2 linked regions of the Homo sapiens genome follow. The protein of the gene in region 1 interacts with the protein of each later gene in a pairwise test. Each region holds a gene or a part of one and is shown on either strand. Other genes may lie near its edges. The genes, in order: ROBO2 and OLFM2.

What was found.
Region 2: the proteins of ROBO2 (region 1) and OLFM2 interact in a two-hybrid assay, tested with the Homo sapiens proteins (one large-scale study listed by IntAct).

The regions. Positions count from the first base shown.
Region 1 is NC_000003.12:77,647,725-77,650,737, reverse strand, and holds the end of ROBO2 (roundabout homolog 2 isoform 23 precursor), read right to left. Parts: 3' UTR 774-3,013; downstream 1-773. UniProt on the Homo sapiens protein: Receptor for SLIT2, and probably SLIT1, which are thought to act as molecular guidance cue in cellular migration, including axonal navigation at the ventral midline of the neural tube and projection of axons to different regions during neuronal development.
Region 2 is NC_000019.10:9,853,131-9,856,758, reverse strand, and holds the end of OLFM2 (noelin-2 isoform 2 precursor), read left to right. Parts: intron 1-1,895; coding exon 1,896-2,573; 3' UTR 2,574-3,041; downstream 3,042-3,628. UniProt on the Homo sapiens protein: Involved in transforming growth factor beta (TGF-beta)-induced smooth muscle differentiation.

The sequences.
Region 1 (3,013 bases):
AATCATATATATTATATTTTGTCACTGTATTATATTAATGCAACATCATTTGTCATTACAGTAATATTATTTTATTCTCACCTTATTAATATAAATTAAATGAAACTCTAAAATGTGTTGTCCTAAACCTTGTATTTTTAAAAATATTTTTCAATGAGTGTCTCAGGATTTAACCATAATCTTTTTCCTTTTTTCTGTCACTAGTATTATTATTTTAAAGAATACAGAAACTGCCTCTCTTTATTTTTGGAAAAAAAAATTGAGCCTATAGTTGTACTTAGCAGTGAAAAAGAATGCAATATTTATGAAATATAATAAAATGGGGCATTTTTCTTTTCTACTCAGTCCCTGAGATAACTTTTCAACATCCAGTATAAAAACATCCAAAATAAAAGAAATTCATAATTATTTCTTCTAAAGCAATTGAGAAAAATTCATTTTCTCTCAATTTTCATATTTACTTATACTTTCAAAAATAAGATATTTGTTTTAAATCTATCTAAAGGTCTTCATGGTATGGGGAAAGTAGCAGTGCTGATAGAATGGGGTCTGTATTTCAAATGCTTGCTGTATTCTTTATCAGCGTCTGTTAGTCACTACTAAAAGTCAACACCAGTTCCTATTTATCACTATTCAAACCATAACTGAGTGAGAAAACTGAGATTATGCATTTAGTCACAAAATATTAATGCAGAGTTCTAAAAGTGGCTACCTGGTCTTTTTTTAGCATGTCTACAAACAGGTTTGTTTTACATAAATGGCTTTTCTACAAATTTGAAATGTGAATATATTTTATTTTTTCCCAGTGAGTACACAATACACAATTCTTTGACAATACTATTAACCGATTTTATGCCAATTTCTTCTCTGATCTAACAACATCAAATGAAACACATTAAGATTTTGGATGCTGCTTGGTGACTTAAACAAACTACAGTTAAAAAAAATCCATCTATAAAACAAAGTATAAAAAGTCTACCCACGGCCACAAAATCCCTTTTCTTGCAACACTTTAAAATCACAACAAATGCTTTTTAAATTATGAGATTTAAAAAAATTAGTAAATTGAACATCTTTTTTTAGAAAAAAGTATGGTGTTTCATTTGAAGTACACATTATAGAGAAGCAAAACAAAAGTAATTTCACCTCTAAAATAATGTGGAAAGACATGTTGCTTTAGAACAGTTCTTGCCATGTAATTCCATAAACAATATACAGAAGCAGATGAACAAATTAGTGAATATTATGTTTCTGCATATCTTTAATACTGATGCACAGTTGCTTCCCAGTAGTGAAGATAAACCACAGTTTAGAGTTCAATGGTACTGTTATCATTATATTGTCAATGGACAATTACATAAGTTTATTGAATAGAAATTGAGAGGTGTTCCATCAAAGCACATTACAAACTTTCAACTCAAATCCTGTTGAAAACATATTTAAATACCCAGAGCATTAAACTATGACATAGAACACCATTAAATCTGTTTTGTACTCAACGCAAGTAAACTTGCAATGGTTTTACTTTTCTTGGTTGTGTGATACCTTATATGTTGGTTTTGAATTTTCTACATTCTCCCTTGAACTGGATTCAAATCCTGTGAAGGAATCAATTCTTTTCATGCCCCTGTACTATCCCATCTTATTTTAAAAATCTCACAGGACATGTTTGGAAGAGGGGTAGGGCGACTCCACCTGCATACACTGGCATACCTGAGTTTGGGCACCAATAGAGCTATTTTCCCAAAGAAGACGTTTCCTGTTATGAATGAAGCTGTGCTTGTATTGGACATGATTGCATTGCAGCATTGCCTATGAGTGCAAGATCAGATTACATTCTCTCCCACCCAGATTTCCTCTTGCAGTCCTTATGCAGGCCTCCATTTAAACCTGCAAGAGTGAGCTCAGTGAATTTCTAATCATATTCATTGAATCGGCTATGAAACGAGAAACTGCTGTGGCTCTCATAGGTATTTGTATTTTTCTGTTGACATCTGACTCAACACTGATTAGTAGCTTTTTACTACTTTGTCAGTAGCAAGCTGACAAAGGCTTTGCTTTCCAGTAATGTTTCTGAATTCCTTTGTATAGCTACATACAGCATTTTATCTTGCCCTCAATCTACCTGAGGGTGATATTTTGGGTGCATAAATTGACTGCCCAATGTGTTTAAAACTAGGTTTAATAGGCAACATGGACTATTCTGAAAGAACATTCCAAGTAACCACAAGCTCTGCACTGACATAATTTTAACTACAACAGTTAATTTTTATATGCTGAAGACAATCAGGAAGGTATGATGCTATGCCCACGTTATTCCAAAAGTCATCTGCACACACATACTTCACTTTGAAGCCTTGGTTTATTAATCACCAACACCTGCCAGTTACCAGGGATCAAAGGCTATGTGTTGTATATGTAATGAACTAAGGTTTTAGACTAAACTGGGTCATAGAGAAACATAAAGAGGGAACACAAAACCTCTTCGAAATTTGTTTGCCTTTAAATAGAAAGAGGTTAGGCAGGGAACTTCATAAAGAGATATTTAAAGTCCTCACATCCTAGAGTTGTGAATAAGTATGTATTCACTCTTTGAAGAAACTTTTCATCTTCCTCAGTCTCTTTGTCCCAGAGAAATCACACTGCATTAGAATTCAGGCACTGATGGTAGAAAGTTGATAAAGGGTTTAATAACTGTGTCTCAGAATTCTTTTTCTCTTCAGCGAAGAAATAAATTACATGGCACCAAAAAGCTGGTGGGGCCCATGAAGAACATTACATTCTATACTTGCCTGTGCTGATGCAGTCTCAGGGAATAGAAAGGATGGAAATGTTTAATTATGTCATCTCCTTGTTATAACGACGTGACAAAAATTGGCTACTGAGCCAATAATGCATGGAGTGCGAATTGTCACTCAAAGGGGTCCCGTATTTTAGAACTGATCCTAATCACGTTGAATATTTTTAGAAGAGTACCAACAACTGAACTTATCATAGGAAAAATTTGAGAAAG
Region 2 (3,628 bases), on another chromosome or scaffold:
CCTTTGACTGCCCATAGGTGCCTAGGGAGTCCACACTGGTGACTGTCTTGTAGCCCAAAGTGTCCTGGATCCCCCAGGGCCATTGGACCTCCCTGTCCAGTAACCCCCAAGTGACCAAGGGCTTTGCAGCCTTGTGAATCCCACTCTGTTGACCTCCAGTGTCTGTATAGTGGCTAATGGTTACTGAGTTCTACTGACCAGTTCTCAGGGACTACTGACGTCCAAGTAACTACCCAATGACCAATGCCCTCCCAAGGACAAGAGACCTCTTCCACCAAGCACTGCTCAGTGACCTTCGGACTTCTAGTAGCTTCCATGGTCATGACTGCCCATCACTTAGACACACAAGAACCATCCATGAGGCTGGGCATGGTGGCTCATGCCTGTAATCCCAGCACTTTGGGAGGCTGAGGTGGGCGGATCACCTGAGGTCGGGAGTTCGAGACCAGCCTGACCAACATGGAGAAACCCTGTCTCTACTAAAAATACAAAATTAGCCGGACATGGTGGTGCATGCCTGTAATCCCAGCTACTCGGGAGGCTGAGGCAGGAGAATCACTTGAACCCTGGAGGCAGAGGTTGCAGTGAGCCAAGATCGCACCATTGCACTGCAGCCTGGGCAACACGAGTGAAACTCTGTCTCAAAACAAAACAAAACAAAAACAACAACAAATGCTAGTTAACATGATGACAACAATGATGTTGATGACACGCCTGGTCACCTCATGGTGACAGGGGTTAGTTAACCATGGCAGTGAATTCAAGTGATGTCTTATCATTCAATGGCTGTCCAGTGACCACTAACCACCCAATATTCAATGACCAGGGAATTCCTGGGCCCAGTGACTCCCCAGGGGCTGCAGTTCCCTGGGTCCTTTGGGATGGAGCATTGTCCACTTAGGGTCTGTTTTAAGATCAATAGTGGCCAGGTGCAGTGGCTCACGCCTGTAATCCCAGCACTTTAGGAGGCCGAGGCAGGCAGATCACTTGAGCTCAGGAGTTTGAGACTAGCCTGGGCAACATTGCGAGACCTTGTCTCTACTAAAGATACAATAAATAAGCTGGGCGTGGTGACTTGTGCCTGTAGTCCCTGCTATTCCGGGGGGCTGAGGTGAGAGGATTGCTTGAGCCTGGGAGGTCGAGGCTGCAGTGAGCCGTGATTGTGCCACTGCCCGCCAGCCTGGGAAAAACAGTGAGACTTTGTTTCAAAAGAAAAAAAAAGGCCAGGCGTGGTGGCTCATGCCTGTAATCCCAGCACTTTGGGAGGCTGAGACAGTGGATCACAAGGTCGGGAGTTTGAGACCAGCCTGACCAACATGGTGAAACCCCATCTCTACTAAAAATACAAAAATTAGCCGGGTGTGGTGGGATGCGCCTGTAATCCCAGCTACTCAGGAGGCTGAGGCAGGAGAATCACTTGAACCTGGGAGGCGGAGGTTGCAGTGAGCTGAGATCACGCCACTGTACTCCAGCCTGGGCAACAGAGAGGGACTCCATCTCAAAAAAAAAAAAAAAAATTACTTAAAAAAAAAAAAGACCAATAGCACTCACTGGGATTTGGGTCCTACTGGGGCCATGCAGTTCCCCAAGAAACTGCAGCCCCTGGGGACTCACTGGGCCCAGGAATTCCCTGGTCATTGGATATTGGGTGGTTAGTGGTCACTGGACAGCCATTGAGTGATAAGACGTCACTTGAATTCACTGCCCATGGTTAATGCTGTCACCAGGAGATGATCATGGTCACACTAGGGCCATAATTGGTAATGAATGGTCAACAGAGTTCCCATGACTAATGACCACTTAGTGACTGTTGAACTCTAATGGCTGTAGCTGGTGCTGGGACCCTTGGGTCGTTGGTGGTGGTTCCCCCCAGTGACCAGCGGCTGCTACCATAGGTCTGGTACATGGATGGCTATTACAAAGGCCGCCGGGTCCTGGAGTTCCGTACCCTGGGAGACTTCATCAAAGGCCAGAACTTTATCCAGCACCTGCTGCCCCAGCCGTGGGCGGGCACGGGCCACGTGGTGTACAACGGCTCCCTGTTCTATAACAAGTACCAGAGCAACGTGGTGGTCAAATACCACTTCCGCTCGCGCTCTGTGCTGGTGCAGAGGAGCCTCCCGGGCGCCGGTTACAACAACACCTTCCCCTACTCCTGGGGCGGCTTCTCCGACATGGACTTCATGGTGGACGAGAGCGGGCTCTGGGCTGTGTACACCACCAACCAGAACGCGGGCAACATCGTGGTCAGCCGGCTGGACCCGCACACCCTCGAGGTCATGCGGTCCTGGGACACCGGCTACCCCAAGCGCAGCGCTGGCGAGGCCTTCATGATCTGCGGTGTGCTCTACGTGACCAACTCCCACCTGGCTGGGGCCAAGGTCTACTTCGCCTATTTTACCAACACGTCCAGTTACGAGTACACGGACGTGCCCTTCCACAACCAGTATTCCCACATCTCGATGCTGGATTACAACCCCCGGGAGCGCGCCCTCTATACCTGGAACAACGGCCACCAGGTGCTCTACAATGTCACCCTGTTTCACGTCATCAGCACCTCTGGGGACCCCTGAGCCAATGCTGTGGCTCGGGCTGCTGCCTGGGGGGCCTCTGGGGGCTGGGGGCCCTTTTCATTCTGCCTGTGTCCCTCAAGGGTGATCTCTCTGTCTCTGTCACGCCCTTTCTCCCCGCCTTTTTGCTGGGCTTTTGTTCTCTGCCTATGTATTTCTGTCTATTTTTTCAATTTCCCCTCTTCTCCTTTATTGATCTCTGCTTTTAATACACCACTTCTTTCTTTCTGCCTTTTTATGGATGTCTTTTTCTTTTTATGGCTCTGGTTCTCCAGTTCTTTCCGTCTCTGCCTCTCTCTGTCTCTCTCTCTCTGTCCTTCCACCCCTCCCTCCTTGCTTCCCACCCATTCCTCATCCCTCACTCCCACCCCCACCCCCACCCCCAGGAGTTGAGTGCATGGATCTGTTTCTTTTTTTATTTACACTTTTTCTTTCCGGTTTGCCGGAATAAACAGGACCTTTGACATTTGACGCTTCGGTGACTGTGTGTGTCCAATGGCGACAGAGGTGGAGGTGGCCCCGAAGTCCAAGCCTGGAGACCCATCTCCAGTGAGGATCCCCTTATTCCATGACTCAAGCTTAAGCGAACTGGGGGGAAGGGGTTCCCCAGGGCCAGCCCTTTGGGGAGATGGGTGAGGAGACCCAATCCAAAGTTGTTTTGATCGAAAGCAATTCGTTTAAAAGCAGTTTGATCAAAACAACCGAGAATTCTAGCACAGCAATGAAAACTGGCCTCAAATGAGTATTCTCCCGTCACTGGATTGCCACTCTGCAATCACTGTTGATGCATTACTAAGAGGTCTGGAATTTTTTTTTTCTTTTTTTTTTTTTTGAGACAGTCTTGCTCTGTCACCCACGCTGGAGTGCAGTGGCATGATCTCAGCTCACTGCAACCTCCACCTCCCAGGTTCACACGATTCGCGTGCCTGAGCCTTCCGAGTAGCTGGGATTACAGGCACGCACCACCATGCCAGGCTAATTTTTGTGTTTTTAGTAGAGATGGGGGTTTTGCCATGTTGTCCAGGGTGGTCTTGAACTCCTGGGCTCAAGTGATCCGC